Regions from separate parts of the Homo sapiens genome. Here region 2 is linked to region 1. Evidence: fine-mapped expression QTL. A gene starts in region 1. The other region holds a variant in brackets. All regions are shown on one strand. Distances are from middle to middle.

Region 1 (10,807 bases):
CCAAGGCATGCAGGCAATCTCCACTAACCTTTCCTAAGTGGCAAAAACTAGCAAATTTTGCAGCTTATAAAAATACAAGAGAAAGATGATATTCAGAGGGGTGATTATTGGTGAATATTATATCAGAGAGCAAATACTGTTGAAATAAGCACTCAAGGTGATGGATACAACCAAGTCAATAAAGTACTTTAATATTCTAGAACTTTTAAGAAGCCAATCTCTCCTTACAAAATCTATCTGGCACACACTGTTGATTCTGTTATGAGTTGCTTATGTTTTGCAACTTCAAAACCTGCATGATGGTAAGACTTGAAATGGTATCTTTATCTAACACTATAAGTGATGAGAAATAAAGATTTTATTTCAAATAGTTGTGACATTTTAAAATGCATACATTTAAGAACTATGAGAGAACATTTTCAAAGAAATCTTGGAAATTAAGAACAGTTCTGGCCTCCCTTGTGGCATGTCCATCTCCTCACTGCTGGTAAGTCTTATATTCTATCACCGTTCATTTGACTCCTTTAACACTCAACAAATCTTTCTTCTGAAGCACTAAATATGTTATATCACTTTCTTCCCAATATCCTTTCCAAAATCGAATTACTTTCAGATCAATATTATCCAGTGTCTCAGAAGATTTACCCTTTTCAGCTCATCCTAGAAGAGTTTTTGTCTTAACCTAGTCAATGCCTACCCGACTCAACACACAACCTTCATCCTTCACAGCATTTTAGTCACCTACACTCTAGTTCAGCAAAACTACTGCCAAAACAACCAACTCTGGACTTTAAAACACTCAAGTTTCCTCTTTAACCATAGAATTCTACCTCCTACCTTTCTCTAAGTTACTATCTTGATCTCAGAGTGACTTGCTTTTCTTAATAAGTTCATTCCTGGCTGCATGTCCTTTCCTACCCAGTCTGAACATGACCCATCATTTATACTAGGAATTATCCACGAATCCCTTGCTACATGGCCAAATGTTTGGAAAATGGTACATTAACCTAAGTTAAATGGGTTCTCTTAGAGCAGAACTCCCTTAGTCTTAAAAAAAGAAGCTTAGTATGTTGTTATTTGCCCAAATTTATTTTATCAGAAATCCTTTGTACTCCCAAAACCAATGTTCTCCACCAATGTCCTGATGAGCACATTTTTTGAAACACTAACTTACATTTTCTGCTTAGTCCTTCTCTGCCTCTCATTCACTCACTGTCTGAACTGCAGGGAGACATTATCAGGCCAAGCACTATATTGAAATACATCCATTCCGCCGAGTGCGTTGGCTCACACCTGTAATCCCAGCACTTTGGGACGTCGAGGCAGGCAGACCACCTGAGGTCAGGAGTTCGAGATCAGCCTGACCAACATGCAGAAACCCCATCTCTACTAAAAATACAAAATTAACTAGGCTTGGTGGCACATGCCTGTAATCCCAGCTACTCCGGAGGCTGAGGGAGGAGAATCGCTTGAACCCAGAAGGCGGAGGTTGTGGTGAGCCCAGATCATGCCACTGCACTCCAGCCTGGGCAACAAAAGCGAAACTCCGTATCAAAAAAAAAAAAAGAAAGAAAGAAAGAAAGAAAGAAATACATTCATTCCTTGATTCAATAAGTATTTGTTGAGCACCTAGCATGAGGCAGAAACTGTTCTAGGAGGTAGGAGTATAAGGATGATAAAAAACAAATACTCTGATCTTATAGAGCTTTCACTGATCTAACAGGGAAAAAATGAATAAAAACTAATATATAAAATGTTACATGGTGATAACCACAATGAAGGTAGAACAAAGTAAGGGGAGAAGAGATGGTCATAATGCTGTCTTGGAGAAGTATGGATAATCAGGGAAAGTTTGTTTAATAAGGACACAATAATGACATTAAAAAGGAAGGTAACGGATTACTATTTACTAATTGTCAAATCTGAAGCTCTCTTTTGAATCCCCATCCTACTGGGCCTTTCTACAGTCTGAGCCACTGCTGACAAATCTCTTTCACCTTTAAAGTCCTTTCTCTCTTGGCTTCAATGTTTCCTTCGCTCCTCCCAAGCATGCTATGTTTTACCTATACTGGACCTGCTAACATGCTTTTTGTGATTTTCGCCATCTAACAAACACACACTGAGAGGGCCTCCTATGCACTAGGTACTTAGCTAAATGTTTTACATATATTACATTATTTAATACTTAATATAATTTAGGTAGTTACATATTTAATAGCTCCATTTTTTTCATAGCAGGGAAAATAAGGGTTCAGATTAAGTAAACTGCCCAAATCATAGAGCTAAAAAGAAACAAAGCAAGGATTCAAACACAGTCCTCTCCAATATACTGTCTATTAAAATATCTGGCATCCAACTCACTACCAAAAAGCAGTAAATGCTAGATAAATTAATAAAGATAAAGAATTATACAGTAAACTAGTATACATTTATACTACGAAAAAATAAAACAAAACAGAAATTTTGATGAGACACGACTATCTTTAAACCAAGGGCTACACTGAAGAGCAATCAGTCTTCTAATCAAGTTTTAGAGGGCAGTACTAAGATCTAATAATTTCAACAATCCACAAGAGGAACGGACAGTCTGATCTCTGCCACAATTTTTATAACCATTTATCAGGGATATGAAGGGAATGACAATACTGTATATAAGGATAAAATCTGCTTAGATTTTACCATCTCTCCATTTTACAAATAAAAAAAGCTTATAAGAGATTGGAACTCTCTCAAGTCTAGAACTACTTCTATTATCCTTAGATAGATTTTGTGGGGCACAAATTTTATTAGATGAAAAGGAATTAAAAGGTTTTGCTATAACTATCTACAGAATGTAGAAGTGCTCAGATATTGATTCTACAAAAACAGATAACTTATATTTCATTTCAAAGTATAGTGTTTGAGCCTAATACCTCATCTATTGACTATTCAAGAAGCATAAAGACCCTGAAGACCAAAAGTAAAACAAATGGTATATGATTACATGCAAATAACGTAAGTTATAAGAAAGAGTAAGATTATCTTTAATAGAAATTTTCAAGAGTCCATATATTTTCTTGTTTTATAGCCAAGATTAATGTCTGGTAACTGGTTTCAACTAGAAACATATGTCTAATGCCAGAGTACAATATTTACGCAATTACTCTGACACATTAAGCAAACTTTTGAATATTTCTTACTGGATACTGCAATATAATATTTATTAAACACCTTCAAAGTACTAGACTTTAACTTCCAATAGAGGTAAGAAACTACCTAATCTATCACTGTATCAATGTTTCTAGAATGAAAGAATGGATGAATTAATGAACGGTAACCTTAAGACTCAGAGTTTGATATTTGCAAGGTGTGATCTCTTAGGGGAGGGAGAGGGGAGAAGGAGGAAGGAGAGAAAGGCACCATCCTAACTTCAACAGAAAATTCTCAAGAGCTTTTATTAGATTGAACTGCTTGAAATTACCAGAATTCAACTGTTTTGCCCTACATAATTTAGGGCAACTTCACATATTTCAACTCAGTTTATCACAATTAAACACATTATAGTTAATGATAGCATCTTATTTTGTAAAAAAAAAAAATCTAAAAGTAAAGGGCAAGCACTATTAACATCATAAGCTGGGCCCTATAACATCATAAGCTGGACCCATAAAATATGCCTATAAATACAGAATCCTACCTTTGTCCACCTATGCAACTGAGTGTCATAATAGGTTTCCATTATATTTTAAAAACATTCGTAGTAAGGTTTCAATAGTAATATCTTAGCACTGTTAAAATGTAAGGTCCACTAAAATGTAGGTTCGATGAGAGTAAAGCTTTATCATTTTTATTCTTTGCTGCAACCTAGAACCTAAAAAGATGCCCATAATAGACATTTATTTAACAACAAATATTTATTGAGTACCTACTTTGTGTCAGACATTGTTTTAGGTGCCTAGGATACATAAGTGAAAAATCAGATGATGATCTTTGTCTTAATAACAAATGTTGAATAAAATAATAAAAATCTGCAAACTGTTCAAAACACTTTATAGATAATATGTAATAAAACCTTATCATATTATATATGATAATCTCATGAGAATTCCATAACCCATGCTTTAATCCCACCAAGATACAAAAGTATCTTGAAAGTAAAATATACTGTACTATCATTACAATTCCTTATTTCATGGAAACTTGAATTATCTTCCAAAAACACATAAGCAAAAAACAAGACCTTCATTAGGCCATAGCATACTGCAGCTGTCCACAAACGGAAAATTATCAGAATCATTTATCAGAGCAAAAGCACGAAATAAACTTCTACTCATGTTATTACATCTGCTTTTTGGTGAATAGGTGACTGAAAAAGTTACCGGCTACCACTTTGCACTTCATCACACAATGTAGAATATTTTACTCCCTGGCATGCAACAATACACAAGACTCAAAAGCTTCTGCTCATTCTTAATTCCAACTGAATCCGTGTAAACTAGGAGACGGGGGAAAGGAGCTAAATCAAGACAATAGGATCTTTCAATTCTGAAGGTTTGTTCTTCATCATAACAAATTAAAAAATCTTGAAACTGTTGTTGCCAATGCTAGTTATTGTGGTTTTTGTCCTTCCTTTGTTTTTAGGTGAATGCTTTCATTACACAGGATAAAATGGGTAAACAGAATAGAGAAAAAGTGAAAGAACTGGGAACAAAGCAAAATCTGGAGTCATGGTTACAGTACAAAGATAAACCCAAAGATAAGGAACCAATACAGGCTCTTCCTCACACAGCGGCCGTGAATAAGTCATCAAATCCTCCGGGTAATCTATTGTACCGGCTCTAAAGCTGGCCAGTGACACTTCCTTAGGAGATGCTCTGACATCCCTCCGACAGAAGATGCTGTCGAAATGTAAAAAGCCGGTTACCTAGGGAAATCGGCCAAGGAATGTCAGGAGCTCGAGGCTGGAGACACACCCCGGGGCTGCAGCACAAAGTGGCCTGTTGGTGTTAAGGCCGTGGACAATAATGGAGAGAGTCCAGTACAAGGAAAACAAAATCTGGCCAGAGACTGGGATCACTAAAAGGGCACTCAGGAGTCAAGCAAGATCAGAAAATGGTAGGAAGAGACGTGCAGGCGTCTTGCCAGGGGCAGGATCTGGCTCCGGGCGGGAAAGCCCAGTTGAAGACCGTCTGAGGCGGGGCAGCCTGGTAGCGTTAGCTCCACCGCATCGGGGACTGTCCGGTTCCCTTCGGCCCCAGCCTCCGGAGGCGCGGCGGGACGCGGCGAGGTCCGCCGCACCGAACCAGCCCTCGCCTTCCTGCTACTGGTGTCCAGGGTCCCCAGCTGTTTCGGGCCCGCTCTAGCCGTCCTGCCCTCATCCCTTCATCGCCTCACCTTCCAGTCCCTCCATCGCGCCACCTCCTCGAGCTCAGCGAGACTCCTTCAGCAGCGCCCGCCACCGCCCAGCTCTGGCTGTAGCAACCCAGCCGCACCTCCCACCCGCTAACATTCCGAGCTCCCATTGGTTCCGCAACTGCGGGGGCGGGGATCCGTGGGGGCGGGGCCGCGGCGGAGGCGAGGTTCCTGCGGTCTCCTCCTGGCTGCCACCCCTGTCCGTCTCTCCGGGTTACTCTCCAGGGAGCCGGGAGCCGCTTCAGGTTGCAATCTGCGATGCAACGGCGCCTTTGTTTGACTCCAGCCTTGTTTTGCCTCATACCTTATCCTCCTATTTAGAGTACCTCAGCACCTCATGGGCTCCGCTTCACCAGTTCCTCAATCAGTCAATGCCTCTGACTTCTAGCCGCCATCCCTCCCAGTGGATACTTTAAGCAGGCAAGCAAACCAAACAAACGCCCAGCACGCTTGCATGCAGCAATCTCCGTTTTCCGGTCTTTGGTCGCATGACTTGACCTCAGCGTATCCCCTACACTTGATCTTCACACACAGCTTCATAGGTTAAGACACTTTTTTTCCAGAGAAATCATACTTTCTATCTGCGATTGTGGAACTGCGATTGCTCTAAGCCCTTGAAAACAGTTTCCTCACCATGAAAGCTTGGGCCAAAAATTAGAAGTGAAACCCAGCCCTCCCTCTGTCTTCTACTCTTGGCCTACCTTGGCCCTATACTTTATCATCCATAAACCAAAACAGTCGCCTGGCCTGACAATGTTTGATCGGGGAAGTTTGAGTTGGGGAATTAACCTACAACCTGACAGAATGAGGCCCGCCCGTCTCTAACAGAGTTCAAAACCTCCTGAAGATGAAAGTAACTTCAAAACTAACTCAGACCATTTTAACGGTTTTGCTTACAATTACCAGAACTACATTTCTTTGAAAATTTGATTTAGCAATCGTAAACAAGCTGTACTGTTTGCTGACTATAGCGTATCTACTGGCAAGTTACCAGTATTAATGTGTTGTCCATAACAAACCTCGGATTAATGTTATTGTTAATCTGTTTAATTGAAGAGTTTAACTTCATATCTAACTTCATCTACTATGAAATCAGTTACCTTCAGGAAGCAGGATTCCTCCTACTCTCCACTCACATGAAGGTATGTTTAAACAAGCAAACACTTGAGGGGGCATCATCTCTTACTGAGAAGGTGCTCCAAGTGCATTTGAATGTGGTAGAGTCCATCTGTTGTGTGGAGCCATGTAAAGACCACTTCAACCATGCCTCAATGACTCCCTCCGCCCTTCCCTGGTTCCCCTGGCTCTTCTGCTTCTCTGAGATCCTGGGCCTCCTTGGCCAACCCATAGCCTTGCAGGCAATAAGCTACTCTAGACTGGGTGCTGCGGAAAGGTCCTTTTTCTTCCTTAGTGCTACTAAGGCAAAGGTAGAATTTTTGGTTGGGAGGGAAGGCCTTTTAAAAGAGCATTAAGGAGAAAAAAAAGCACACAGAAGAAAATACAAAAATAAGGAAGCCATTATTTTACAAATTACAAGTTCTTTCACTGAAGGCAAGACGAATATTGAGTTGGCTGATACCTTATTCGACATAAAATCTACAGTAACATTAAAAATAATAAAAATAGCATTAAAGAATAAATCATGTGAGGCATGTTTTAGGCCATTTTCATATATTCACAAATCTTCAAAAGAAATCTACAAAGTAGATACTACAATCTTCATTTATCAGAATTAAAATGTTCATTTTCTAGATGTCTCAGAGCAATTAATATTTTGTCAATATTTGTATTATTAGTGGATGGTAGAGCTTGGCTACACTCTTGTCTGTTAAATTCTAAAGCCTATGGTGATTTGATTGGGCTCCTCACTCCCTTTCCTTGCCTTGCCTTTTATTATAGCTGCCTCAAGTGTAAACCCAAGCGTTCAGACATGTTGTTTAACATATATTTGAGTAGGCATTTCTATTGTGAATCTTAATTCTCTAAAACATGATTGCTAGTCTTCCCTACAGGTATCTTCATAACTTTTATGCTTTTGGTCTCTTCATAACTTTTACGCTACAGCTACCCTGGCTCCTGCAGCTTTTCCCTGATTCTGACCCCTGAGTAAAGAGGACTTCTTCCTATCTGCCTTCAATAAGTTCTTTCCTCTGCCGCCTACATACCTAGCCTGAGAGTCTTGTCTTGGCACTGTATCATGACATTACTTCCTCTCCAGTCTAATCCATTTTTCGGCATGCATTCATTCAACAAATGTTTGTTGAGTACCTTCTATGCTTCAAGTCCATTTTATCACTAGCCAGTTACTCAAATGAATGAAACTCAGCTTCTTCTCATGTTTTTAAGCACTTACCTGTACATAATTTTTCTACCTGCCATGTGATCTTGTTAACTGAAAATAACATTTATAGATCAATAAGAATTCGAGATCTTCTGACCTCCTTATCATACAAAAAGGAAAACAAACTTTCAGAGATGTTTCTGACTTGGTCAAGATCACAAAACTAGTACTTAACTGAAATAGATATTGTATCTGTGTTTTATTACATCATACCTTGATTCTTTCCACTTTGCATTATATTGCTTTCAACCACCATTCCCTTAAGCAGATCCACATCTATTCTGCACATCCCAAAAAGCTGAGCAAGCTGCATATAGCTTCTTGTTTCAAAGCTCCAGTCTCTTAAATCCCACACGAAGTTCAAGTCCCCTTTTAGAGAAAGCCATTGGTTCTCATTCATATCATTTGCAGAGCACAACTAAATGAGATTCTGAGTCTCGGTGAGAACTCAGTTTATCACCTCCACTATGTAGGACATTTCTTCCTTCCATGACCAGAAGAGGAATAACCTACCACAATTTAGCATATAAAAATAATTCATACATTTGGTAATCATAAGAAAATGATAATTTTCATCAAAAACATAAGAAAATATTTCCCTTAAAACTGTTCTAGAGGGAGGAAGCATATTCTGAGTTGGCTCTTGCTAGTTTTATTTGAAGTAAAAATAAAATTTTCTAAGTGTTCAGGGGGAAAATAGTGATAGTTTCTCATGGCCTGGAATAATCAGAAAGCATATAGGTAGGCTGTCACGGGTGAAGATTTATTGAAGGAAAAATGTCCTAGACAAGAAACATCAAGAAAAGAAAGAGGGGCTTTAAAAAAGTGAGGAACTTAAAGCAAACTTTACCTACTACATTGATTGAAAGGCTATTCCATTCATAGTGTGATAGCAATTATTCTAGCTCTATGCTTCCCTACTTTCAAACTAATTTTCAGCTGCAAAAAGATCAGTTTTTTTTTTCAAGTTTCGGCTATGATCTTGCCTATCCATCCCTTTGCATCACAATTTCAAATCTTAACTAAAAATCTATTAACCAAAATGTTTATTGAGGTCCTCTCTAGACTAGTCCATTTTTCTGATGCATTCTTTCAACAAATATTTGTTGAGTACCTTCTGTGCTTCAAGTCTATTATATCACTAGCCAGTTACCAAAATGAATGAAGCTCAGCTTCTTTTCTTACGTTTTTAAGTATTTGTCTGTGCATATTTTTTTTACCTGCCATGTGATCTTTTTAACTGAAAATAACATTCATAGACCAATAAGAAATTGAGATCTTTCAACCTTGAGTACAACACTGCTCTAGGCACAACAGAAAGCTTCAAAGAAATCTCTCTGATCTCTAGAAAGTTAACATCTAGTAAAGGAAACCGTGAGCAAGACATAATACAGGGCAAAAGAGTTGTTAATAGTATTAAGTTTTAGATGTTGTGGTACAGCTTATAAAAGCAATTGGTTACAGGAAGTCATTTACATGAATGGAACAATTTTAAAGGTTTTTTAGAAGTAGAACTTAAATTGTGTCTTGAAGAGTGTCATAGGATAGGTAGAGATCACTGAGGATGAGGGAAACATGGCATAATCCTCCTTAAGAAAATGATGCAAGCCTGGCATGTTTTGGGACAATCTAAAGAAGCAAGGAAAATATTTGTATCTATTTTGGTTCATGTGTAACATTTGTTTCTCTTTACATTATACAGCACAAGCATTATGGCTATATAATTTATATCTTTTTAATCTTAGGGGCAAGGTGTTGAGTTAATGATACTCACTAACACACAGTACATACTTCAACTATCCATGCCAAGGTATCTCTTTTATTTTCTTTTTATTATTTGTCATTCATACCCCATTTTCACACAATTTACCAGCCTCCTCACTATAGGCACAATTCTATTACATATAGATGTCTTTGGATAGGTGTGATTCTTTGAAACACATATGGTGCTGTTTTATATATGCATCTGTTTTTAATTTACATAAATGGCATTAGTCTATGACTTTCATTCTGTTTGTAATTTTAATTTTTAAGTAATTTTCATTATTTAATTTTTGAATTTAATGTTTTTTGTCATTCATTCAGAGATTCATCCATGCCACTGTATGAAATACAAGTTTATTGCTTCTGATGTTGGATAATAGCATTTTACCGTATGCATACACCACCACATCTTACTTACTCATTTCTGTAGTGATGGGCACTGAGTTGGTTCTAACTGCTGCTACAATGAACATCTTTGTGCTTGTCCCCTTATGAACCTGGGCTCAAGTTTCTCTGAGATGCATCCTTGGAATAGTTTACTGGATCATATTCACTTCCACTAAGTACACCTAGATTTCTCTCTACAATAGCTATACCAGTGTACATTCCCATCAGCAGTGCAGAGCACTCATCTTTCTATGGCTCAGTAATAGCTGACTTAGCTCTAATTTTTTAATCAAGAGTTGGTCTTTTCTTCATATACTCGCTAATTCAGATTTGACTTTCAATGAATTGCCTGGTTTTGTATATTGAAATTCTCATCTTTTTCTTATGGATATGTAAATTCCTTGTGTATTCTAGATGTTGACCCCTGCTAATTTCAATTATTTAAAAAATCTTTTCCAGTTTGCCAAATACTTGATAATTTTGTCTATGATACCTTTCACTGAACAGAAGCCCATAACATTAATTCTATAAAATCTGTCAATATATTTTCTTTATGAATTGTGCATTTTTTAATTAAAGTTTTCTTCAGATTCTAGATTATTGATGGTATTTGCTCACATGTTTTTGTATTAATGCTATCCTTTTTATCTTTCTTAATGAGGTTTTCAACCCATCAGGAGTCACCTTTGTATATTATATGTGTTAGGAATCAACTGTATTCTGCATATAATGAGTCCATTTTTCCAAAACTATCTCTAAACAGAAAAAGTAAATATAGACGTCACAGAATTACAAATACAAAAATATTATGAACAGCTTTGTTTCTATAAATGTAAAAACTCAGAGGAAATGGATATCATTCTGGATAAAATTAAAAATTGTGACAAGAAACTTGAGTAGAATGAAAACTGTTAATAAATTGAA
Region 2 (10,807 bases), 39 kb before region 1:
TCAGATTTTATTCTAATCCTTAATTATCAAAACATTTTTCTTCCAAACAGTGGTTATCTTACATGATTCTGGAAATAAGGATTAAAATTTTTCTTTCTCAGAAAAAACTTCCTGAAATTAAAATTTAGAAAATTTTTGACTATATTTTAAAAACATATTCCTCTTATATGATAAGAAATGGTCAAATCCTACATGTGATACAACAAAGTTCAGTTCAAGAAAGATGTGTAAAATATAATAAAAACCTAAAGGTAATTATCCAATGGAAACATTACATATATAAAAAGATTGCCAATATTTTCAGATTTTGAAAACCTAATTGAAGGACAGGTTCCAGTAATGATTTTAACCATACTTGTATTATAACATTCAACTTGATTTATATGTGTGCATATATATATATGTACATTCAAAACTCAAATGTTACTTAGGCTAAAAGTTAATGAATGCTATTTTTAGGCTATAATCACTTAATAACTTACATTCTAAGTTGCCATTAGGCTATCAAAAACAAAATCTATAAATCTCAATAACAATCAAGATTTTATACATATAATACTTTCACAGGCCTTCAAAATACTCATAGCTGAATGAGTATGGTGACGATATCAACCTATCCCTGATTTGAAATAAACTTTAACATAGGAAAAGTCATTTACTGTTGATACCAGGAGAGTGAATTCACTTACGAAATAAGTAATTTTAGTGTGGCTTACTAGGTACCTTGTAGGAGTGTAGCAAGTACTGTAGATTGAGATATAACAAAAAGATGATTTCTGAAATAATATTGGGAAAAGAATTTACCGGATGGTATTTTGTATCTTTGCACACCTCTGTTGTTATGATGCTATAAGGCAATCTTGTCCAACCAGCAGCTCACAGGCCACATGCCACCCAAGATGGCTTTGAATGGGGCCCTATACAAATTCGTAAACTTTCTTAAAACATTATGAAATTTTTTTTTTTTTTTTTAGTTCATCAGCTATCATTAGCGTTCGTGTATTTTATATGTGGTCCAAGACAATTCTTCTTTCAGTGTGGCCCAGGGAAGCCAAAAGATTGAACACCCCCCTGCTCTAAGGCAGTTTTGAAATGTGTCATACCTCTACTTTTGATCCTAAATTTATCAATCCTACACAAATAATTAGTATCTCAATTCCACAGCAAAGTTAGCTCCCTATCCAAAATCTCCAATCATTGTTATCCACATAAGAAACCGAGGTCTGGAATTCTAGGTTATCACAAGCATTTCTAGATCAACAATAAAAGATAAGTTCATAAAAATTCACATAACGCTCCACACAAATTCATTTCACACACATCAAAAGACTGGATTATGAAAACAGCATGTTTCCTATTCATATAAAAATGTACTCAAAAACTAAAGACATTTACTTCTTAATGTTTTAAATAAGGTATGAGAAACAAAATGCAATTTTTTAAATTAAAAAATGCTCCATACATGCCTTTGGTTGCTCTAATTTTAGGTGTATTACAGTTGCTCTCCAAAGTAAATGTGCTTTTCATAGTAACTAAAAGGAAGTAAATCTCTGATATTTGATAGTTTCACTATTGAAAATTATTAACTGAGATATCCATTTAAACTGGTAATAAGGTACAACTGTGTAAACTCTAGGGAACAATTCAAATGGGGAAATATTTATTTAAAAGATCTGTGTTTCACTGTATTTCTAAAATTTCCTGGTATTAAAGATAATCATCTTTTGGCCGGGCGTGGTGGCTCATGCCTGTAATCCCAGCAATTTGGGAAACCGAGGTGGATGGATCACTTGAGGTCGGAAGTTTGAGACCAGCCTAACATGGTGAAAACCCATAAAAATTCAAAATTAGCCAGACATGGTAGCACACACCTGTCCCAGCTAATGGGGAGGCTGAGGCAGCAGAATCACTTGAATCCAGGAGGCGGAGGTTACGGTGAGCCAAGATCGCACCATTGCACTCCAGCCTGGGCAACAAGAGCAAAACTCCATCTCAAAAAAAAAAAAAAGAAAAAAAAAAGATAATCATCTTTTAGAAGAAGGGAAAAACTTTCTACTTGGGTGTGTTTTGTTGTTTTTTAAACAAATCTGTTAAAATTGACCTAGAAATTGATTTGATTGCTTTTTTTTACATTTAAAAAAAGGTTTAAAAAGGTTGTTTTTGTTTTTGTTTTTTTAATGGAGACGAGTTCTTACTATGTTGCCCAGGCAAGTCTCAAACTCCTGGGTTCAAGCGACTCTCCCACCTCACTCTCCCAAAGTGTTGGGATTACAGGTGTGAGGCACTGCACCTGGCCTAATCCACAAACTGTCTAGAAGCAAACAACCAAACATATGAGAATTTTTCTGAGTGTAAAAATAAATCTCTTTGTGGCATGATTCTATTACAGATCACTGGTATGCCTGATTAAAGTGGACTACAATAAAGATTACATACACCAGACTTTAAATAATTGCAATCCACTGAAATAACAGCATTTACTAATCTCAGCGAATGCTCAATTTATTGAGCATTACACCTGACCAAATGTCTTAATTCAACCTTTACTCAATCCTGAATCATCTGTATAAATCGAAATAACAGTTGTCATACAAACTTTAAGTAATTCTTTCACTGGTACCAGATGATAATTCTGTGACATGCCAATAGATTAACAGATGAGGGAATTAATTTATTATCTTTTTTCACTTAACCAAAAATTTTTTGTTAGCCTAGGCATTCTGCTAGATTTTAGTTACAAATGGAAGCAAGGCAGACATAGTCTTTGCCATCATGGAGCTTACAATCTAGCAAGAGAAACAAATCATTACTTCACTAATTCTTAAAAAAAAAAAAAGAAAAAAAAAGGAAGGAACTCTGTCACTAAATAGACAGCTATGAATGGTTCTAATTTAATACAGTAACACAATGTTCCAGTTAATATAGTAATATATTGGTAGAAATGAGCTCCACAGCTCTCTTTCCAGTAGTTGGAAAGCTTCCTTTAATCTGCAAGGATCTTATACAGAATGGACAATCAGAATTTGAACAGGTATGATTGACAGTTATATATGATGTGGGATAGCCAAAAAATATGTATTCTTCATGGCATTCATCATAAGCAATGCACAACTGACAAAATTATTGTACTCAAAATCTCTGCTTGTTAGCAAAAGCATATTTTCCATTAGTAACCAGGTATGTTGGTCAGATTTTCTTGGATCAGTTGTCAAGGTCTAACCAGAGTCACAGATGTTGTCACAGTCAGACAATATGTCACAGCATGACAAAGAGATACATGCCCAAAGCTATTTAGTGGCAGATTATGATGCAGAAACCTAGTCTTCTAACTCCAAGGTCAGCGCCTCTCTTCATTACACCAGCCAGCTTTACACGTCCTATCTAGGAATACTGTGTCAGTACAATTTAATATTGCCAACTGATAAAATTGCCAGTACTATAGAAATACTGAAAAATATCAGCTTTTAATCTATGATCAACTGTAAGTGAAACTATAAACAACACTATGAACAAATATTGTTACCTAACATGGAGGCCAATTCTCTGTGATATGGTAAAATGACTTTGTAAAATTAAAGCACATATTGCTATGTCTATACTTCACTTAATCATCCAATGAGTCAACTCATTGGAGAAGAAAATAAATCAGATCAGTTTCTTACCACTAAAAGATAAAATTTTTTTACTTTTCAACTACCTGATCTACTGATAAACTGTCTCTTTCTTATGGATAGCCTGTCTCTTGTTTTTGGAAGCACAACAATAAGAAAAATCACTTAACTCAAAAGATATTGTTGGTTGATTTTTTTTTCCTTTTCTATAATGATAATTACATTATATTCCTTTAGGTCTTCCATTTTCTATGTAGTCTGAATTGAGAAGCAAAATGTAGTTACTATCATTTGACAGATATCTTTGTATATATTTCCCACATAAAAACCAAAATGAATGTGAGCCACATATAACTTACACTTGAAAATAACAGGAAAAGGGGTGAGTAAATACAGCACCTTCATCTGAAACATCCATGTACTTGCATTGGGACTAATCAAGGAAACAACTTGACCCACAGAGAACAAAGAAAAGAGAGGCAGGATGACAGCCCACCTTGGAGCGACACAGAGCAAGGTGAACCTCTCTGGCCCAGGGAAGCAGTGAGTGAACGTGTGACCCTGGGAAACCACGCTTCTCCAACGGATCTTTGCAACCCTTGGGTCAAGAGACGCCCTTGTGAAGCCACTCCACTAGAGCCTTCAGTCTGACATACAGATATGGGGAGTCTTGGCAGAGCAGCTGCTCCGGCACAGGCAAAGACCCAGGAACTCCAAACTTCCCAGCAAAAGTAACTGCAACTCCAGCAAAGCAGGATGTTAGACCCCCGTACATACCCTTAGGAAAAAAGGCTGAATCAAGAGGACCAAGTAGAGACAGTCTGCAGGTCTCACTTTCATAACACCTCACAGGATAAGACCCACTGGCTTGGAATTCCAGCCAGCCACCAGTAGCAGTTTTGAGCCTACCTGGGATGGAACTCCCAGGGGAAGGGACAGGCTGCCATCTTTGCTGTTTGGGTGACTCAGCTGTTCTGCAGGCTTTGGAGAGTACAAACCAACCAGAGGCAGAGAGGATTCCCCAGCATAGCATGACTTCTTTACCAAAATGTGGTCAGACTGCTGGTTAAGCAGGTTCCCAATCCATTCCTCATCACAGAGCAGGACCTCACAACTGGGACCTCCAACCATCCCTGCTGGTATTCTCTGGCCCACAGAGAGCCAAAGCCAACTGGGACGAAAGTGGTAACCCAGCACAACACAGCTGCTCTAGGAAAGTGTGGCCACACTGCTTCTTTAAGTAAGTCCCCAATATTGCCCCTCCTCACTGGAAAGAACCTCCCAACTGGGACCTCCAGCCAGCCCTGCAGGTGTTCTCTGGCCTACAGAGATTTGCAAAGTCCCTGGGATAGAACTCCCACAGGGTGTGCAGGCCATCATCTTTGCTGTTTGGGCAACTTAGCAGTTTCAGTCTCTGGGGTTTGGAGAGCCCATGCCGACCCAGAGGTGGAAGTGGTACAACAGCACACCACAGTGGTCCCATAAAAATGTGGCCAGACTGCTTTATTAAGCAGGTTCCCAGTCCCATTCCTCATCACCAGGTGGAGCCTCCCAACTGGAGTCTTCAGCCACACCCACAGGTGTTCTTTGGCTGACAGAGGTTTGAGGCATCCCTAAAATGAAGCTCCCAGGAGGAGGGGCAGGCCACTACCTTTGCTGATTTGTAGCCTTCACTGGTGACACCTCCAGCTACTGAAAAATCCAAGGTGACTAGTGACTGGAGTGGACACCCAGCATACACAAGCAGCCCTATGGAAAAGTAGCCAGAGTTGTTCAAAAAAACAAACCCATCCAAAGGTAAGCAGCCTCAAAGACTGAAGTTAGGTAAGCTCACAAAGATGAGAAAGAATCAGCACAAGTATGCTGAAAACTTAAAAAGCCAGAGTGCCCTCTTTTCCTCCAAGTGACCGCATCACCTCTCCAACAGGAATCAGGCTGAGAATCTCCTCAGAATCAGGCTGAGGCTGAGACAGCTGAAATGAAAGAAGCAGAATTCAGGATA[C/T]GGACAGGAACGAAGTTCACTGAGCTAAAGCAATACATTGTAATCCAATGAAAGGAAGCTAAAAATCATGATAAAACACTGCAGGAGCAAACAGATGAAATAGCCAGTATAGAGAAGAACATAACCAACCTGATAAAGCTGAAAAACACACTACAAGAATTTCATAATGGAATCACAAGTATTAATAGCAGAAGAGACCAAGCGAAGAACAAATCTCAGAGCTTGAAGACTGGCTTTCTGAAATAAGACACGCTGACAAGAATAGAGAAAAAAAGGATGAAAAGGAATGAACAAAAGCTCCAAGAAGTGTGACATTATATAAAAAGACCAAATCTATGACTGACCGGTATATCTGAAAGAGATGAGGAGAATGGCACCAATTTGAAAAACATATTTCAGGATGTCATCCATGAGAACTTTCCTAACCTAGCTAGATGGGCCAACATTCAAATTCAGGAAATGTAGAGAACCCCAGTAAGATACTCATGAGATGATCATCCACAAGACACATAATCATCAGATTCTCCAAGACTGAAATGAAAGAAGAAATGTTAAAGGCAGCTAGAGAGAAAGGCCAGGTCACCTACAAAGGAAAGCCCATCAGACTAACAGCAGACCTCTCAGTGGAAACCCTACAAGCCAGAAGATATTGGGGACCAATATTTAACATTCTTTTTTTTTTTTTTTTTTTGAGATGGAGTCTCACTCTGTCACCCAGGCTGGAGTACAATGGCGCAATCTCGGCTCACTGCAACCTCTGCCTCCTGGGTTCGAGCAATTCTCCTGCCTCAGCCTCCCAAGTAGCTGGGACTACAGGTGCACACAACCACACCCGGCTAATTTTTGTATTTTTTTTTTAAATAGAGACAGGCTTTCACCACATTGGTCAGGCTGGTCTTGAACTCCTGACCTCAGGTGATCCGCTCGCCTCGGTCTCCCAAAGTGCTGGGATTACAGGCGTGAGCCACCACACCTGGCTAACATTCTTAAAGAAAAGAAATTCCAACTCAAAATTTCATATCAGGCCAAACTAAGCTTCATAAGTGAAGGAGAAATAAAACCTTTTTCAGACCAGCAAATGCTGTAGGAATTTGTTACCACCAGACCTGCCTTACAAGAGCTCCTGAAGGAAGCACTAAATATGGAAAGAAAAGACAATTACGAGCCACTACAAAAACTCAATGAGGTACACAGACCAGTAATACTGTAAAACTGTTAGTTACATAAACAAGTCTGCCAAATAACCAGCTAGCATCATTATGACAATCAAATCCACACACATCAATACTAGTCTTAAATGTAAATGGGCTAAATGACCCAATTAAAAGACACAGAGTGGCAAGTATTTTGATAAAGAACCACGATCCATTGGTATGCTGTCTTCAAGAGACCCATCTCATGCAATGACACACATGGGATCAAAATAAAGGGATGGAGAAAAATTTACCAAGCAAATGGAAAACAGAAAAAAGCAGGGGTTGTACTCCTAATTTCTGATAAAACAGACTTTAAACCAACAAAGATTTAAAAAAAAAAAAAAAAGAAGGGTATTACATAATGGTAAAGGGTTCAATTTAACAAGAAAAGTTAACTATCCTAAATACAAATGTACCCAACACAGGAGCACTCAGATTCATAAACCAAGTTCTTAGAGACCTTCAATGAGACTTAGACTCTCACACGATAATAGTGGGAGACTTTAACACCTCACTGACAATATTAGACAGATTATCAAGACAGATAATTAACAAATAAATATTTAGGACCTGAACTCAGCACTGGATCAAATGGACCTGATAGATATTTACAGAATTCTCCACCCTAAAACAACAGAATAGTGTTCTCATCACCATCTGGCACATACTCTAAAATTGATCACATGGGCCAGGCGCGGTGGCTCATGCCAGTAATCCTAACACTTTGGGAGGCTGAGACAGGCAGATGACCTGAGGTTAGGGGTTTGAGACTGGCCTGGCCAACATGAGGAAACCCTATCTCTACTAAAAATACAAAAATTAGCCAGGTGTGGTGGCACATCCCTGTAATCCCAGCTGCTCGAGAGGCTGAGGCAGGAGAATCGCTTGAACCCAGGAGGCAGAGGTTGCAGCGAGCCAAGATCATGCCACAGCACTATAGCCTGGGCGACAGAGTGAAACTCCATCTCAAAAATAAAATAAAATAAAATAAAATTGATCACATAATTGGATGTAAAACATCCTCAGTAAAAGCAAAAGAACTGAAATCATAACAAATATTCTCTCAAACCACAGAACAATTAAATTAGAAATCAAGATTAAGAAATTAACTCAAAACCCTACAACTACATATAAATTGAATAACCTTCTCCTGAATGATTTTTGGATAAATAATGAAATTAACGCAGAAATCGGGAAGTGCTTTGAAACTTAGAGTACAAAGAAACAACATACCAGACTCTCTAGAACACAGCTAAGGCAGTGTAAAAGGGAAATTTATAGGACTAAATGCCCACATCAAAAGTTAGAAAGATCTCAAGTTAACAACCAAAGATCACAACTAAAAGAACTAGAAAAACAAGAACAAACAAATCCCAAAGCTAGCAGAAGACAAGAAATAGTCAAAATCAGAGCTAAACTGAAGAAGATACATGAAAAACCATTCAAAAGATCAACAAATCTAGGAGCTGCTTTTTAAAAAATTGATAAAATATATAGGCTGCTAGCTACACTAAAAAGAAGAAAATAGAGAATATTCAAATAAACACAATCAGAAATGACAAGAGGGGTATTACCACTTGACCCCATAGAAATACAAGTCATCACAGAATATTATGAATACCTCAATACACATAAACTAGAAAATCTAGAAGAAATGGATAAATTCCTGGACACCTACACCCTCCCAAGACTGAACCAGGAAGAAATTGAATCCCTGAACAGACAAATAACGAGTTCTGAAACTGAGGCAGTAATAAATAGCTTACCAATTGAAAAAAGCCCAGGACCAGATGGATTCACAGCTGAATTCTACTAGATGCACAAAGAACTGGTACAATTCCTACTGATATTATTCCAAAAAATTGAGAAGAAGGGACTCAACTCTAGTTCATTCTATAAGGCCAGCATCACCCTGATACCAAAACCTGGCAGAGACACAACAAAAAAGGAAACTTCAGGCCAATAACCTTGATAAACATCAACAAAATACTAGCAAATCAAATCCAGCAGCACATCAACAAGCTTATCCACCAGGATCAAGTAGGCTTCATCCCTGGGATGCAAGGTTGACTCCGCATATGCAAATCAATAAATGCTATTCATCACAACAAAATTAAAGACAAAAAGCACATGATTATCTTAATAGATGACGAAAAGGTTTTCAATAAAATTCAACATCCCTTCACGTTAAAAACTCTCAATAAACTAGGTATTGCAGGAACATACCTCAAAATATTAGCCACTTATGACGAATCCACAGCCAACATCATACTGAATGGGAAAAAGCTGGAAGCATTCCCCTTGAAAACTGGCACAAGACAAAGATGCCCTTTCTCACCACTCCTATTCAACATAGTTTTGGAAGTTCTGGCCAGTGCAATCAGGCAAGAGAAAGAAATAAAGGGGCATCCAAATAGGAAGAGAGGAAGTCAAACTATCCCTGCTGGCAGATGACATGATCATGTATCTAGAAAACCCCATTATATCAGCCCAAAAGCTTCTTAACCTGATAAGCAACTTTAGCAAAGTCTCAGGATTCTAAAATCAATGTGCAAAAATCACTAGCATTCCTATACACTAATAACAGCTAAGCAGAGAGCCAAATCAGGAACAAACTCCCATTCACAATTGCCACAAAAAGAATAAAATACCTAAGAATACAGGTAACTGGGGAGGTGAAAGATCTATACAAGGAGGACTACAAGCCAATGCTCAAAGAAATTAAAGATGACACAAATAAATGAAAAAATATTCCATGCTCATGGATAGGGAGAATCAATATTGTTAAAATGGTGATACTGCCTAAAGCAATTTATAGATTCAATGCTATTCCCATTAAACTATCAGTGACATTCTTCACAGAACCAGAGAAAACTATTTCAACATTAATATAGAATAAAAAATGAGTCAAACTAGCCAAGGTAATTCTAAGCAAAAAGAACAATGCTGGAGGCATCATGCTGCCTGACTTCCAGCTATACTACAGGGCTACAGTAATCAAAACAGCATGGTACTGGAACATGGACCAGTGGAACAGAATAGCAAGCCCAGAAGTAAGACCACACACCTACTACTATCTGATATTTGACAAACCTGACAAAAATAAGCAATGGAAAAAGGATTCCCTATTTAATAAAAGGTGCTGGGATAATTGGCTAGCAATATGCAGAAGACTGAAACTGGATCCCTTCCTTCCACCATATACAAAAATTAACACAAGATGGATTAAAGACTAATGTAAAACCAAAAACTATAAAAACCCTGGAAGACAACCTAGCCAATACCATTCAGGGCACAGGCAGCAGCAAAGATTTTATAATGAAGATGCCAAAAGCAATTGCAACAAAAACACAAATTGACAAATGGGCTGTAATTAAACTAAAGAGTTTCTGCATAGCAAAAGAAACTATCAACAGAGTAAACAGACAACCTACAGAATGGGAGCAAATATTTGCAAATTATGCATCCAACAAAAGTCTAATACCCAGCATCTATAATTTAACAAACAAACTTACAAGAAAAAAACAAACTTACAAGAAAAAAAGAAACTTACAAGAAAAAAAACAAACAATCCCATTAAAAAGTGGACAACAGACATGAACAGACACTTTTCAAAAGAAGACATACATGCGGTCAACTGTCATATGAAAAAAAGCTCAACATCACTGATCATTAGAGAAACGCAAATCAAAACCACAATGAGGTATTATCTCACACTAGTCAGAATGGCTGCTGTTAAAAAGACAAAAAATAACAGACACTGGTGAGGTTGTGGAGAAAAAAGGAATGCTTATACATTGCTGGTGGGAATGTAAATTACTTCAGCCACTGTGAAAGACAGTGTGGCAATTCCTCAAAGACCTAAAGACAGAACTACCATTTCCCCCAGCAATCCCATTACTGAGTATATACCCAGAAGAATATATATCATTCTATTATAAAGACACACACATATGTTCACTGCAGCACTATTCATAATACTGAAGACATGGAATCAA

Which allele goes with the higher level. Alleles are on the strand shown, and positions count from the first base shown. SD is a standard deviation of normalised expression in the study named.
As copies of T replace C in region 2, the expression in tibial nerve of the gene that starts at base 5,449 in region 1 goes up (small effect, 0.19 SD a copy in GTEx).

What was found.
Region 2: its variant is fine-mapped to the expression of ZC2HC1A in tibial nerve (GTEx, PIP above 0.99).

The regions. Positions count from the first base shown.
Region 1 is chr8:78,660,731-78,671,537 of GRCh38, reverse strand. It overlaps ZC2HC1A (zinc finger C2HC-type containing 1A), which reads right to left and starts at 5,449. Exons shown (of 9, transcript NM_016010.3): 1 at 5,374-5,449. The coding sequence starts at 5,389. LOC105375911 (a long non-coding RNA gene) reads left to right here and starts at 5,559. Exons shown (of 4, transcript XR_007060972.1): 1 at 5,559-6,533. RefSeq lists enhancers at 5,296-5,345, 5,310-5,817, 5,818-6,326 and a silencer at 5,416-5,635.
Region 2 is chr8:78,699,885-78,710,691 of GRCh38, reverse strand. The region is part of intron 7 of ZC2HC1A (zinc finger C2HC-type containing 1A); the gene reads right to left. It also overlaps a transcript of IL7 not described here. Among named protein-coding and RNA genes, the nearest start is that of ZC2HC1A, 39 kb to the right of the region's middle. The variant C/T (reference allele first, on the strand shown) is at 5,614.